Regions from separate parts of the Homo sapiens genome. Here region 1 is linked to region 2. Evidence: fine-mapped expression QTL. A gene starts in region 2. The other region holds a variant in brackets. All regions are shown on one strand. Distances are from middle to middle.

Region 1 (8,338 bases), 56 kb before region 2:
CAGGAGACTGCGTGCTACGCAAATCTTTTGTCCACAAACCACAAGTCAAAATGAGTTGGAATTTAGAGAGAAACACAGCTGTGTGGGTTGAGACATTGCTTCTTTACTGTAAGCTCCTAAATTTACCGATTTTATTTTTCTTATTTGCCCCCCTTCCTTCCTCCCTGTCTGTTTCCCTTCTTCCACAAATATTTATTGAACTTTTACTATGTGCCGATCGTTGTTCTAGGAGTGAGGCATGGAACAGCAAATTAAACAATGTCTCAGTCCCCCTGGAGATGATGCTCTAGTAGGGGTGACCTACAATAAACAGGAGGCGCTTAAATATTCATGACAGGGTGATCAGGGAAGGCCTCTCGGAGGAGGTGATATTTGAGCAGACCCCTGAAGTGGATGAGCAAGTGATGTGAAGAGGAGGTAGGAAAGAGCAACAGGACAGAGCAGCACATGCAAAGGCCCTGGGATGGAAATGAGCTGGATGTGTCTGAATGTCAGAAAGAAGAATCGTGTGGTTGGAACATGATGAGAAAGGGTCACAGGGAGAGAAGAACATGTCCAAGAAGTAGCCAAGGGCCAGCTCACACAGGGCCTTGTAGGCCCTGGGGAAGCTAAGTGTATTGGGAATTTGCTGGAAGGTTCTGAACAGGAGAGTGGCATGGTCATCCCAACGAGAGCTCCTTTGCTCCTACTTATTCACGCGATCTATGCCTATTCAAGGAAAGTTGGAAACCACAGAAAAGAAAAAGGAAAGAAAAATGCCACCCATGATCTTAGCATCTGTGCTGGTGGTTCTGAATGGCAGTGATTTTACTTCCCAGTGGACAGTTGGCAATGTCCAGAGACACTTCTGGTTGTCATAACTGGGGAGGGAGAGGAACTGGGGAGGGAGAGGCCAGGAATACTGCTAACCATCCTACAAGGCACAGGACAGCGCCATAAGGAAGAATTATCAGGCCCCAGTGTCCGTACATCTGTCCATACCGCTGATGTTCTCAAGGCCAACTCTAAACCTGTGTTTGGGGACATTTCTCCCACTTCCAACCCGGCTCATTCTAATCTACTTTCATTTTTAGTGTACATGAGCTCCTACCTAATCTTCTATGTTGATGCTTCCTTTCCACCGAACAGGAAAACATAACCATTCCCCAAGATTTTGTTCTAACACTACCTATGATGGTGTCACTTTCCTTAGCACTGAGGTTCCATAACCAGGTCCCATAACTCTTGGGTTAACCCGCGGAGTTCTCAAGCCCTCAGACCCCAGCATCCCCATGTGTAAAGTGGGGTTAACAGTACATCTGCCTCAGAGGGTAGTCATGAAGATGAAACGAATTAGAATATGTAAAGCATCAGTGACACACACTAAATATTATAGGAACATTTGCTATGATCACAACTCAAGTATCTCCCTTTCGTGTTTTCCAAGTTTTAATATTAGGAATAATGCTGTTAAAAGTATTTTTAAAGATAGATTTCCACGACTTCAAATATTGGGTCTCTCAGAGTGGGATGACATTTGAAAATTGAACTCTATGAGCTGTGCAAAACTGTCACAGGGTGAAATAGGAATGTTTCAGGAAGTCTCATTTTTCATGTGTTTAGATGTGCAACGACTCCTGATAGAGAGTTTCCCTGGGCAAAACACCTTCACTTTGCATCTTAAGATAATTGGGAATGCAACCTCTTACATAAAAGCATCCTTAGGGTGCCCTGCTTGGGATGCGGGGCTGATCTGGTATGAGGTTCTTATTTCAGCAAGCGTGGGCAACCCCTGCCCCGGGGAAGCCAGTGGGGCTGAACTCGCAGGCCTCAGCCTGCCAGGAAGAGCTCCAGGTGATGCCTCCAGGTGCGGGGTGGCCTGCGGAGGGGACCAGGCTTTACTTTTCCATTGTGTGCGGCCTCTGGACCAAACAGGAGCTCTAGCAAAATGCCCAACTCCCTCCTTATTCCGGTGGGTGCTTGCTCTGCCCTTCACTGTTCAGCAGAGGAACTAGAAAAGCACAGAGCTGCACAAAGGAGGTGCTCAACAAATCCTTGTTGAATGAATGAATGACTGATGAACAAACGGCCAAAGCTATTGATTCATCACACCGATTTCTAAAAGGAGGTTAAATGAGGCCAGCTTCTGGCTTGCTCAGAGTAAAATCTAAAGAGCCAAGCGCAACCCATGAGGCCCTGTCTGATCCCGCCCCTGACTTCTGGAGCTCAGATCCCGCCACCCTCCATCTCTCACACTGGCCTCCTAGTGGTGGTCCCTCAAGCCCCATCCCCCACCAAGCATGCTCTCCTTTCAGACATGCCCACGGCTCTCCCTGCCCCTCTCAGGCCTCTGCCAGAGAGACCTCCCTGACCACCCTACCTTAAGGAGGGTCCCTCACTACTCCTGCCCCATTGCTCGGCGGAGTTCTTCTCCATTGCATTTCTCACCCCCGGACACATTCATTACACACGTGCCTTTGTCTGTTTCTTGTCTGTCTCTACCCTCCAGAAACTATGATTCACAGAAAGAGAGACTTGTGGGCTTTCAACACCAATAGTCATGCCTGGTATAAGTAGGAGCATAATAAATATTTGTTAAGAGAGAGGAAGGAAGAGGGAGAGAGGGAAACTGACAATGTCAGGAGGTGGCAGAATTCTTCAGAGAGGCTCTGATGCTTCTGAATATTTCTCTGGGAACCCTGTTATCCCTGTTTCACAAATGAAGGAACTTAGGCTCTGAGAGGTTGAACTTGGCCCATCTGATCCTGAAATCCACACTCTCGCCCCCATCCTCTCCTGCCTGGGCCACAGATTAGTCACTTGAAGTTCAGATGACGAAAATTACCTGTATAAGGTCCCACAGCAGGTTAGTGGGGGAGCTGGGACAAGAATCTGAGTCCTCTGACGCCTGAGAGTGGTTTTATTACTCAGCTCCCTGGTGGCCCATGATGTAGAAGTGCATAGCCCGGTTGCCCTTCAGGGCTGTTGTGGGAACTTTGTTCTAATCCTCAGTGACTGGCACTCTTCTGCTTGTCCAGCAGACCCAGGATGTAGGTTATAACTGGTATCAACCAGAGTTTAGTTGCAGAGGGTAGAACCCACTACAGCTAGCTTAAGCAGGAAGGGGTTAATTCAGGCTAGCAAACGACTTAGAGAATTTCTGGGGAGGTTGGGGGCACAGACGCTAGGATAAGCTTTAGGGAATGCCAAAGCGACACCAGACAACTGGTTACTGCTACATGTGCTGTGACCAGAAAGCTGCTGGTTACAGAAAAAATCCCTCCATGATAGGCACCTTGTGGATATCTCTATCAGGAAACCATTCCACTAATGTGCCAGCCTCATGACCTTATCACACTTGCCAGAATCCTTACAAGCAACAAGGATGCCCTGTGCCCTGCGTGGCTGATGCTGTCACTACCTTGCCTAAATCCCTTCGGCAAATACCATTTCCATGAAAACCATCCAACTTCCAAACGGCAGCAAGTGCAATGTTTTACCTGAAGGCTCTTTCTGGCATATGTGGGGTATAAAGACCCCAGCTCCCTCACCCCTAAGGAGGGATTACTCAGCGGCACGTGTTATAAGCCCTTTCCCATCAGGGTGTAGCCTTAGATGCTCAGGGAGTAACCTGCTGGATCACACACCCTCTGTTACTTTCCTTCGCTTCATGCCTTCCTTCTTTATTCCCATTCTGGTGTTTCTTGGAGTCACCTCTTAAATGAACTATTGGCACTGGAGCCCTGATCTTGAGGTCAGCTTCTTGGGAACCCACACAAAGACACCATGCCTCTCAACACACATAAAGCTAGTGCCTGCTCGCTGGGGCCTCTGCTAAAGCTGTGCAGCAAGCCAAACTACTCCAGACTCTGCACAGTGACAGAAACAACCAACACGGCAGAGGCAATTTGAGTACGACCTCCGCCTTCTGAATTTCAAGGAAGCGCATGTGCCTGCTTAATGTTCCATTACTCCTAGAAACCTAGCTGCAAGGGAGTTTGGGCTTTCCTGCCCCTTGGTGGAGGAGCACCCAGAAGGAGGAGCAGGGAACAGATGCTGCAGAGTGACTCCTCATGATTTCCCCACAGCTCCAGCACCCCAAACCATGTGCAATCTTGGAAACTCAGTGCCCAGCCATGAGACCTCCAAACTCACAGGCATCATCAAGTCACAGACTCTTAGAATATCAGGGCTAGAAGGGTACTTGAGACTCCTTAGATTATTTTATGGTTGTGAAAATTGAGTCTCTGTCTGAGAGGGGAACATCGCTGCAAGGTCCCCCTGCAGATTAGTGGCAGCTGGGAAATAATAATTCAGTTCTCCCAGACTCTAGGAAAGTGATTATTTTTTATATCACTCAACTCCATGCTTCACTACATGTTATCCTGGGAGAAACCCTTGCCCTGTCCACCACCACCTTTAAACGAGCCTGGATTGATGGCTCTTTTGATTACTGGGAGCTTACTCTGTGCCAGGCACTGTGTTGAGCACTTTGCATGCACAGTGGAGAAAAACACAGGCTATGGAACCAGAATGCCAAGGTGCACACCCAGCTCCATAAATCACCTTGTGCAAGCACCTCAGCCTCTTTGTGTCATGCTATCCTTGTGCATCATAGATGCAAAATGATACTACCTACTTCATAGGGCAGTTGCAGGTGCAGAACTGGGGTTGGGACCCTTGCCAAAAGTCACACAGTGGGTAAGTGGCACAGCCAAGGGTTGCAACCAAAGCAATGTGCTTCCACTCTTAACCTCTGGGCTACACACAGACAGATACACACAAATCTTAAAATGCATACCAACCTAACA[G/C]CTACATAAAAGTATCAAGCTTTTAAGCCAATCTTGAGCAGTCCATCCATTCAATAAATATTTGGTGAGCACCTACTATGTGCCTTAGAGGGTGTGGCTCAGTTACCCCACCATCTAGCTCCATGTGCAGGCTGAGGTTAAACCCAAAACGTGGAGAAGAACAAAACAAGTCAAGAGTCAGAAAACAACTGAAATCCTGACTGCATCAGCAACCCTGATCCAGCTATACCTGAACTGAGCTCTGACCCTGGACTCTCAGTTCCTTGATCCCCTAAATTCTCTTTACTTGCTGAACCAGTTTGACTTGAGTTCTCTATTACTTTTACCTGAAAGTCTTGACTGTGAGACTAGGTTTGGCCTGACTTACTCTCACACTTAGCAGGACAGCTGTTAAAGTGTTAAACCCTCCCCACTCCCCAATCTCACTGTTAACTTCAGATTTTCCCATAAAAGGAACCGGCTCATGTATGTTTTGTATCATCTTATGAAGCACAATATAGTGTCTTTCTAAGAGGACTTAAAACATGGCCTCAACTGCCAATAGCATTTAAAGACCTTGCACTTGAGTAGGTCTTGGTATGTGGTGGCATGTCCCAGAGACACCATAGCCAAATGATCAAACACCCCATATTCTGGAGTCAGAGACTCTGCTCCAATCCCATCTCTACCAGTCTTGAGCTCCAAGACACTGGGCATATTCCTCTGAGCTGCAGTTTCCTCATCTGTACAATGCGAGTAACATTAGCACCCACCTCCTGCAATTTTTGAGAAAATTAAATGAGATAGTGCATGTATTTTCCCTGACACAATAAATAATAAATATATATGAAGAAAACAGATATACAATGACCTGGGTTTCCACAAGTATAGATTTCAACACTACATTTATGGAGCGATCATCTCAAGCTTGAATGAAGAACAGTGCTCTTAGAGAAGTGAACATAATACTTGTGTCTCTAAGTTTGGAACTGACAGTTACCTTGAAAGTAGGGTCAACCTTTTACGAATTAAACAATAATGTGTGCAGCTTTATTTTATTTTGTTTTTTTCCAGGCAACCTTACGAGAGAAACACAATAACGTATGCATCTTGAACAGAGTATTTATCACCAGAAAAACAGTTGGAGAGGATTTTCAGTGGCTTCTTTCAACAATGTTTACTCAGCACTAACCCTGTACTGGGCACCGAGGATACAGCTGATAAGAAATATTAGTCCCTCATCTTATGCAGCTTATCGTCACTTGGGGTTTTCAAACTATAGAGTCTCACCCATAGATGGGTTAATAAAATCAGTTTAGTGAGCTGTGACCAGTGTTTTTCAAAAAAGAAATAGAGTAGACCAGGGTTGGCAACCCACAGCCTATGAGCCAAACCCAGCCCACCGCCTGCTTTTATAAATAATGTTTTACTGGAACACAGATAAGCCCATTTGTTTACATGTTGTCTCTGACTGTTTTTACGTGACAACTGCTGCACTGAATAGTTGTGACAGAGATGGTATGGCCCGCAAAGCCAAAAATAGTTAGCATTTGGCCCTTTCCAGAAAAAGTTTGCCAACTCCTGGGATAGACTAATATGGTAGTAATTTTTTTCTTTTGTTTTCTTTTTTCTTTTTCTTTTTTTTTTTTTTGAGACAAGGTCTCACTCTGCTGCCCAGGCTGGAGTGCAGATCATAGCTCACCATGGCCTTGACCTCCTGGGCTCAAGCGATCCTCCCACATCAGCCTCCTGAGTGGCTGGGACTACAGGCATGCACCACCATGCAAGGCTAGTTTTAAAACTTTTTGTAGACATGAGGTCTCACTATGTTGCCTAAGCTGGTCTGGAACTCCTAGCTTTAAGAGATCCTCCCACCTTGGCCTCTAAAAGTGCTGGGATTATAGGCAGGAGACACCATGCCCAGCCATATGGTAGTTATCTTAATGCTGTTGACCAAATATCTCAGATTCACCTTCTGGGTCCACAGTAGGGCTGCACTTCTTCACTCTATTGAAAGTTATGGTCATGTGAGCTGCTTTGACCAAAGAAATATTCAAAGAAATGGTGAGTACCACTCTTGTCAGACACTTGGAGATCAGTGTGTGATGTTCTGCTCCTTCAGGATCCCCAGTGATCCAGGGCAAACGTGGAGCAGGAGCAATAAATAAATGTCTGTTGATTTAAGGCACTCAGATTTGGGGTTACTTGTTACCACAGCATCATCAAGCTGATCCTGACTGGTGTTCATAGAAAATACGAGAGCTTATCACATATAGTAAGGCAAGCATTGTTTCTTAAAACTTTCATTTCTGTATGTGTTTTGTGTGGTTTGTGTGTGTGGTGGGGACATCTGTGTGTATGCAGTTTATTGTATGTCATTACAGGGGTGACATATAAAATATGTCCTTTATGAGGATCACAGTCCAAAGTTGTTTAAAAACAGTGGTCTGGAACTTTGGAAAAAAAAAAAAACTTAGATTCCAGAGAATAACATCTAAAATATTTGAAAGACTAGACAAGAGAACCTGGGAGAAAAGTTCTAAGATGAGTTTGGGAGGGTTAGTAATGCTCTTCATGTACATGCAAAAAAAAGTCTGCTTCTCAGCCAGCCATTCCTCAACTCTTTAGAGTAGAGGTCAGCAAGCTTTTCTGTGAAGAGCTAGATGGGAAATATTTTAGGCTTTGGGGGCCAAGAGGTCTCTGACGCCACTTCTCAGCTCTGCTGTTGTAGTGGGAAAGCAGCCATAGATAACACAGAATGAATGGGTGTGGCTGCTTTCCAATAAAACTTTATTTACAAAACAGGCAACTGGCCAGGTTTGAGCTGTTGGCCTCAGTTTGCCAACTCACGCTCTAGGGGATCAAACAAAGAAGTAGAAACAGGCCAAAACTGCAGTAAGAAGAACTGACTCTTTAGATCTATGGAAGAACTAAAAGGGAGTTCGTAGAACAAAGCCCCATCATCTACGTTGGGTGGGTGGGGAGGGGGCAGTCAGTAAACTATGGCCCATGGGCCAAATTCTGGCTGCTGTCTGGTTTTGTATATAAAGTTTTATTCAGTTATATACTGTCTATGGCGGCTTTTATGTGATAAGAGCAGAGTTGAGTAGTTACAGCAGAGGCCCCCAAAGCCAAAAATATTTATGACATGGTCCTTTACAGAAAATGTTTGCTGACCGCTGGCCTATATGGCCTTACTCATACCCAGGCTCATGTTCAAATGATGGTAATCAGGGGCTTAGGGTGGACCCAGGGTCATGTCCAGAAAAGTTCTTAGAACAAAGGGAGCCCCTCGCACAATGATATTTTTAATAAAGTAAATAGGGCAACAGCCAAAAAAAGAATCAAAGTAACCCTTGGCCCTGCACCCTGGGGAGATTTTGACCGCAGTGATGCTCAAGAAATGAGTTCACAGCTAAAACGTGCTCCATAAATGTTAAAATAACAAGAACAATAAATGGCAATAAAACACAAAGCCATGTACCTCGTCTCCACGGGCAAGACCTCCTAGGGCTTTGAGCTTAGAAGTAGGGAGGGAAGCAGCCCTCCCGCTGATGGCCAGTCTTGGC
Region 2 (8,338 bases):
GCAGGTTCTCCTCTCTCCCAAGGAATTTATGTCAGGCCAGGCAGTCTTTCTTTTCATTTTGTGCCCAGGTGGGAAGCAGTTAAGTTTTTTACACTGCCCCGCACGTGACACCAATCCTTCTCCCCAAGCCTTTGCACACACACACACAGCATACACCTAAGACCTGAAGACACTGCCTAATACTTATAATTGATTCTCCCCCAAGCATCTTTGTATGAAGGAGGCCTGCCCAGCAAAGACAAAACTCTACCCCAGTCGCAACTTCCACTCCTCCGCTCTGCGATCATGTGCGTGGATACTTAGGAAAGGCATGTGTCTAAAGAAGGCACCTCCACTCCCTTCATTTTCTCCTGACAGCCACAGGCTCTCTTCTCTCTCTGCCCAGAAAGGCATCTGTCATAAGCGGCTGGGAACCTCACTTATTCACCATTACGGCCTGCGATTTTATTATACAAGGAGTTTACTGCTGGCCTAATTAGTTTCAAACTGGGCATTCCAGCTGAGGACACCTAAAAAACATCTGGTGGAAGGAGAGAGAATGAGTCCTCGCTCTGAGCTGGTTACGGTTGGATTTCTGCATAACTCTGCTCTCTTGCGCCCGATGCAAGTTGTCTTTGGAAAAGTAACTGAAAAAATAAGGAAACGGTTTCTTCTTTGTGGGAAAGGAGTCATCTTGTCACGGAGGATCCAACAACGTCTTAAAGTGGACGTGCTTGGACTGTGTATATTTTTTCACAAACGGCTGGGGTCTCCATAGCTTGCTCACCCTAATTCAAAATGTACTTAGCTACACCACAGAGCCTTTTTGCTGAGGGCTTTTCCATTCTCCCAACAGCAGCTAGCATTTTATCAATTTATCCATCTGGAACAAGGTTTGCAATCTCTTACACGCAATTTAAAGCAGAAGTAATACCACATATTTGAAACAGCGTGTCTTGGGCGTTTTTGCCAAATGGTAATCCTATAACAAGTCAACAAATCATACCTCTTTATGATGTGTTTAATGCAAAACAAAAGACATGAAAAGAAGATTCTAAAACTTACGTGATGAAAACTTTTTAAAAAAATCCTAAAGTATTGAGATACACATCTTTTTATTTTATTTTATATTTCCTTTAGTTTTTCTGATATTGGGGAAGTGATTTGTGTGTTTATAGAGTATTCTCATACACATGGTCACAACACCAGGTGAGCTATTTTAAGACAGAAAAGAAAAATGCCAATTCCTTTCAGATAAAATAGTGAATGATATTGTGAAGCTGAAGTTACAAGAGAATGGGGACATATAAACTGCTTTAAAGTAAAAAAAAGTTCAGGCTCTTTTGCATCTAACCACATTGGTCTTTTCACAATGGCAAAAGTTAAGAGTTTGCTACGAAGGCAAGGAGATTTTTTTTAATACAAACACAATTTAATGCTTAGTCAAAAGCAAGATTCAAACCACTATCATTTGTTATTTGTTATATAAATTATAGAAGAACTTACCCAAGTGTGAGAGTGTCTAAATGCAAAGATATGTAAAGGATGAAGGGGCTTAAGGTGATGAAGAAAGACAAGTGGAAAAAATGAACATTTATTTATCGAGTAAAATTGTGAAAGATTCTTTCACAAAGATTATTTTGAAAAAGAGGTTCTCTCCTCCCACTCTTTCTTTGTGTACCTCTTTTTTTTTTTGTAAGCAGGATGGTTACATGTGTATGTTAGTTGCTAACAAATGGGTCATAGTCTGGTAAGGTGCTTACTAGTTCTGTATCTATTATGGTCACAGACATTTCACTCAATCAAGAAACGGCTCATGAAATTAATAGATTCGGTTTGAAATACAATTGTCCACTGGTTATAATTTCCTTTGTAAGGGATCTCCCTAACTCAAACATAATTCAGTGCTCAAATTCTTACATGATGTTTGTAAATCATCCTCCTGCCCCTCCGCCCTCGCTAACAGCTAGATTCCAATGTTCAGCTCTTCCACTGCACCTCGTAATTAAAAGGTACCTCTTACCGGGGTGATTTATACCTCCACGTTATATTTTAAAAAGTAATTGAAGATTACATAGCATTTCGGGGAAGGGGAAAGAAAAGAAAAGGGTATCCATAAAAACGCAGCATCGGTCTTGCTTTTTAAAAAGAATTCAGACCGCGGCAGGGTGCACGCTGTCAACTCTCAGCCTCGGCTTCGGGGAAGCAGGAACCTCGCACTGCAAAAGGCGCTTCCAGTTCAACAGCTGAGAAAAGCGCACTGAGTCTTTTGCGATAGGAGTACGTTCACCAGTCACGCTTTCCTAGTATTCCTTGAGCTTATAAACTATTTATTGCTGGGGGGGAGGCAGGCAGGAATATATTGAAGGAGCCTGGGCCAGCACGGCCGTTTAACCTCCAGACTTCATGACTAAAAAACAATTCCATTTCCCACTTTCTCCCATTACAACGAAATCCTTGCCGCCTTCTAAACACCCTTCGGATGTAAACTTTTCTAAGTTTCAACTCTACCCGCAGCAGGCGCCAGGATTCCCTGCCCCGGTTCAAAGCCCCAGACCTGAACCAGAGCGGGCCGAGCGCAAACGGACTTTTGAAAAGAAATATATCAATAGCTAGAAGGCAAAGTCTCAGCGGGCCGTTCCAGCCCCAAGCCGGGATTCCAGCGGTTGGCTCTGCTTCTTGGTTATCCCATAAACACTACCTGAGGGCTTGAGTTTGCGGACTGGGGGAGCGCCCCTTATCGCGAACCGCCGGGACCATAATCGAACAAAACGCCAAGGACCCAGCCGCGTCTACACCGCCTGCGCGCCATGCACTTGTCCCGCGCGCGGGAGAGCAAACTTCAGGGTCGTTGCCCCAAAGCGCATGGGGAAACTGGGGCCCCGAGCCTGGGAGAGCCTTTCCAGAGGGGGGCTCTGCTGCTGTCCCCTCTGCCCTTGTGCCTTCCTGGCCCTGGGAGGCCCGTGCGCCCCAGAACGTCCCGACAGCTGCGGAGGCCCCGCTTGGCGAGTGCCAGAAAGAGGCGCAGGGCGAGGGGGTCCCGGTGAACAACTCCCCCCGCCCGGCGAATCCCGGCGGGCGGCCTGGGGTGGGCGCCGCTGGCGGTACTCACCGCGCGCAGTGGAGAGGGCGCCCCGACGCGGTGCGGGCGGGCGGGCGGGCCGGTGCGGGTCCGACGAGGCCGGGCTGACTGCGGCGGGCACGTTGCTGTCTCTGCCGTTGCCGCTGCCTCCGCCTCCTGGGCTGCCGCGGCTGCTGCCTGCGCCGGGAGGACCGGCCCCTTCTCCTCCCTGGGCCGGGCCCTCCCTCTGCCCCCGCCCGGGTCCCCGCGCCGCTGCGTGGGCGCGTGGGGGCGCCGAGGCGCGACGCTGGGCTACGCGGGCGCACACACCCGGCGGCTGGACGCAGGGCGCGGGGCTCTGGCCCAGCACGTGCCGCCGCGCCGCTTCCTGAGCCTGCAGCCGAGCAGAGCGCGCTCACTCTCGCCGGTCCTGGAGGCCAGGGCCCAGCCTCCTCCCCACCCACCGACACCCCGCACCTCCTCCCTCCCCGGGGCAGCACATCCTCCCTGCAACCCAGGCATGACCCCTGTGAAAGGAACGACGGCTCGGAGAGGACCTCAATAGTGACACTAACATTCGTTCACTCAACCACCCATTCATTCATTCAAAATATATTGAGCATCTACTGTGCCAGGTACCACTCCTGAGAGACTCAGCTAGAACAAGACAGACTAGTTTTCTGCCCTCCCGGAACTTGCATTCACATGGAGAGGCAAACCATAAACAAATAACCAAGTAAAGAAGCAAGACAGTTTCAGAAAGTTAGAGTTACAGGGAGAAAAATAATATATGTATCTGCTGTTGGGGAGTGGAGGAGAGGCGGTAATTTTAGCTAGAGCAGTCAGGGAAGACCTCTCTGAGGAGGTGACATCTGAATTATGAGGAAGTGCCATTGGTGTGGTATTTAGGTGAGAACGGTTCAGGGGTCTCCCCTATGTTTCACCCATTTTACAGCTAAGGAAACTGAGGTCTCAAGAGCTTAACTGGTTTAGTGAAAGTGAGAGGTATAGCCCCCTCCACCTACATGCCCAAATCAAGGCACCCCACTTACTCCATCCTCTCATAGCCACCCCCCTTTTAGTCTCCCTGGCAATGAACTGTGTTAATTGGAGTCTATGCAGCCTTTCCTAGCCCGTCACCCACTCTCTAATGTCTATGAATTCCACCGTGGGACACCCAGGATGCTTCAATCCAAAAGCAATATCAACCACTGTCATTTCTTAAGTGCAGTAAAAGACAGGGCACCCAGGTGAATTTGAATTTCAGAGAAACGAGGAATCAGTTGCAGTATATGTCTTATGCGATTGGTTGTACGTACTTATATTTAAAAAGTATTTCTTTTGTCTCCGAAATTCCAATGTAACCGGGGGTCCTATATTTTTATTTGCAACCTTAAGCTCATCCAATGCCCAACTCTTCCTTATCTCATGTAATCCCCAAGAGAGACCCCAAGGTAGCTGCTGTCAGCACACTCATTTCACAAATGAGCAGGTCCAAGCTCAAAGAAGGCAGAAAGTGGCTGAGCCAGGAATGAAATTCAGGCCTGGCTGACTCCAAAGCCGTTGCTCTTGAGCCGTAACAGTCTTCAATTCCAGTTGTAAGTTTACAGGAGCTGATGAAGGTTAAGTTCTTGGGCCCCTGACTTGCTTGGACCCCTTTCTAAGGGGACTTAGAAAAGTGTTCAGATGGTGGCTTGTTGATGTAAAGTTTACAAAAGTCCTTTGCTTTGGACATTTGGCTGCAGGCCGTAGACACCGCTGTCTTTCCACTCCGATTCCCCACCCCCAACTTGCCCTTGAGTAGGGTGGTGTCAGGTGGCTGCTGGCATTTTGGAGGAAAGTTGAGTTGGGAATTTTGTGATGTTTGTGGTAATTTTCAGCTTCTTAAAATTTGAATTTGTTGTGATTTCTTTTCTTAATTTAAAGAAATAATCATTTTCTTATCTAATCTTGGACTCATAATTTTGTACTCTTTTTCTTGAATAGGGGCTGCAAATTATACATGTATCAGGCCTCACCATTCCCAGACCCACCTCTGGTCATAGCTTACTCCGCTTTCTACTCCCCAAACTTCAGACAGAAGCAAATGTATTCAGTAAACATGGTTGTTCTCTTCTCTGGGCCTGCCGCAGTAGGCTTGGAGATGGCTCTGCTTCTGTCTTCTAGAGGCAGAATGTACATATGTACTTGGCCTTGATTTTCTCATCACTAAAGTGAAAATAACAGTACTCATCTTATACTATTATTGTGAAAATTCATGGAGCTCATGCTCATAAAACACTTTCTACTATGACTGCAGCTGGCACTAGCAATTGCTCAACAAATATTATTACTGTACACACAGCTTCACTTCCCATAGTATCTTTGCTAAGTGCTCCAAGTCATTATAAATTGAGCATCTTAATGACCTTCAGAGGTGTTTAATTTGTCTTGGCCTGTGAACCTTAATTTTTTTTTCCTAAAGGAATAGACTGGAATAGGAAATATCAAGTGAATTGTATGCAGTAAGAATATATATACATACCTATACATATATAGTTACATATATACATATGATCCCCTATATATAGTTAAATGTATACATATGGTCCCCAATTTATGATGGTTTCACTTAATGATTTTTTTGACTTTATGACGATGTGAAAGTGATGTGTATTCAGTAGAAACCACAATTGAGATACCCATACAACCATTCTATTTTTCACTTTCAGCAAAATATTTGATAAATTTCATGAGATATTCAAAACTGTATTATAAAATAGGCTTTGTATTAGATGATTTTGCCCAACTGCGAGGTAATGCAAGTGTTCTGAGTGCATTTAAGGTAGGTTAGGCTGAGCTATGATGTTCAGTAGGTTAGGCGTATTAAATGCATTTTGAACTTAGGATATTTTCAATTTACAATGGAGAGATATATATGTATATATGTATACGTATATCATATATACGTATACATACATACATATATATATACACACATGTATCTGTATCTATATCTATATCCATATCTATATCTATATCTTTGGTCAGGATGTGAAATGTTTCTTCCTGTGGCTCATGGGGAAAAATCTTGAACACTTGTTAACCAAAGGTACCCTATAGAATGCAAAGGGTTAATCTATTTCCTTCATACCATTTTATTCCTTCCCCAGAATCTGGCCCATTATTTCATAAATTACAGACACACCCCAACGACCCTGAGAGATAAGCAGGAGGCAGGTGCTTATTAATTTTATTTTTCCTTCTCTTAGCGCTGTGATTCTCAACTCTGGGTGCACAGAATCTCCAGGGAGAGCTTTTAAAAATCTCCATGCTGAGTCCCCATCCTAGACCAATTAAACCAGACTCTGGGGTGGAACTGTGGCATCTGCCTTTTTTTTTTTTTTTTTTTTTTTGAGAAGGAGCCTTACTCTGTCGCCCAGGCTGGAGTGCAATGGTGTGATCTTGGCTCACTGCAACCTTCACCTCCTGGATTCAAGCAATTCTCCTGCCTCAGCCTCCCAAGTAGCTGGGATTACAGGCATGTGCCACCACGCCCAGCTAAGTTTTGTATTTTTAGTGGAGACAAGGTTTCTTCATGTTGGCCAGGCTGCTCTTGAACTCCTGACCTCAGGTGACCCACCCATCTTGGCCTCCCAAAGTGCTAGGATTACAGGCGTGAGCCACTGTGCTTGGCCGGCATCATCCTTTTTTAAAGCTCCCTAGGTGATTCCAATATACAGCAGAGGAAGAGAATCCCTATCTTTGGGAGAGTGAGACCTTGACCACAGAGTCACAGCAGATGAGCAGAAGCTGATAGGACTTAAGCCCCCAATGCTAATTCAAGACCCTGAAAATTCAGCCACCTTCCTATGTAGAAGCACCCCCTTTCTGTCTCTTTCTTCCCTTGCTATCTCTTTGTTAAGTATTTGTCCTCATTTGATAACAACCAGCAAAATGATCCCAAACAAAATTTGAAAGTGCTAAGCCATACAGCAGATTCTTTGTGGTGTAGTCCACAGTCATGCCTACCTTGGAGTAAAACACATTTCCCCCACTCCAGTCTTCCAAGTAAATGCCCTCTAAAGCCAGAAAAACACATTAATTTTGAAAACTATGAACCTCACAATATATCCAATGTATGTATATTCATTGTAGGATATGTATATACATATCCTACAAACACACATGTGAATTCTACAAATCATGCCTTTTTTCTAAACATATTCCTTTCCCACCTGCAAAGGTCACCTCTACAGAAAAAGCATTCAATTTTTTAAAATACATTCACTTAAACCTTGGCTCTTTCCAAAAAGGATTTGAGGCAACATATAAAACCATATATATGGCAGCAGAATAAAGAAAACAAGAAAAGCAGACAACAGGGAAACAGGAAAGAAAACAAAAGAAAGTCAAGGTAAGGTTTGCACACAAAATGTGAGCTAGAAGGTCCTGGACACTTGTCAGTGGAGAACTGAGAATTAGATGCTGAGCTTCCAGGCAGCCACTGCAAGGACAGAAATGTGATCAGTTACATCAGTGGCTTTCAAACTTTCCTTTGTTTAAAATCTAGTATGTATAGAAGTTCAGTATGGAAAAAGGAGGTGAGGGTTCCCAGCCACAGCCTTATGCCTCACCCCTTTCTCCTGTAGGTATGTGTAAAGGTCTTGAAGGAACCCCCAAAGCTCTGCAGAGTCAAGATTAAGAATCATGGATTTCAAAGTGCTCCATAGTGTTCATGATTCTTTTTTTTTTTTTTTTCCTGAGGCAGAGTTTCACTCTCGTTGCCCAGGCTAGAGTGCAGTGATGCAATCTCGGCTCACTGCAACCTCTGCCTCCTGGGATCAAGCGATTCTCTTGCCTCAGCCTCCCGAGTACCTGGGATTACAGGCATGCACCACCATGACCAGTTAATTTTTGTATTTTTAGTAGAGGCGGGGTTTCTCCATGTTGGTCAGGCTGGTCTCGAACTCCCAACCTCAGGTGATCCGCCTGCCTCGGCCTCCCAAAGTGCTGGGATTACAGGCGTGAGCCACTGTGCCCAGCCAGTGTTCATGATTCTTAATTCTTCTATGAGAAAGAAACCAAATGACTTGGGCAAATCAGAGTTTTGCCTGATATTGATACAGGAGAGAAATTTTCTCATGAGTCTTTACAAAAAAGGCAGTTTATGATACAGTGTGTATGTGGGGATGGGCAGGGGCTTTTTGCAAACATTAAAAAAAAAAAAAGAGAGAGAGAGAGACAGAGAGAGAGAAATCTCACGTCCTTCCTAACCCAAGCAGACAAATACAGGGATGCTTCAAATGTCTCTTCAGT

Which allele goes with the higher level. Alleles are on the strand shown, and positions count from the first base shown. SD is a standard deviation of normalised expression in the study named.
As copies of C replace G in region 1, the expression in aorta of the gene that starts at base 3,236 in region 2 goes down (large effect, 0.82 SD a copy in GTEx).

What was found. PIP is the estimated chance that this variant, and not a neighbour inherited with it, causes the effect. A credible set is the group of variants that fine-mapping cannot tell apart.
Region 1: its variant is the best candidate, but not a certain one, in a credible set for the expression of EYA2 in aorta (GTEx, PIP 0.65).

Annotation. Positions count from the first base shown.
Region 1 is chr20:46,946,192-46,954,529 of GRCh38, reverse strand. The region is part of intron 1 of EYA2 (EYA transcriptional coactivator and phosphatase 2); the gene reads right to left. Among named protein-coding and RNA genes, the nearest start is that of EYA2-AS1, 49 kb to the right of the region's middle. The variant G/C (reference allele first, on the strand shown) is at 4,791.
Region 2 is chr20:46,889,741-46,898,078 of GRCh38, reverse strand. It overlaps EYA2 (EYA transcriptional coactivator and phosphatase 2), which reads right to left and starts at 3,236. Exons shown (of 16, transcript NM_005244.5): 1 at 3,092-3,236.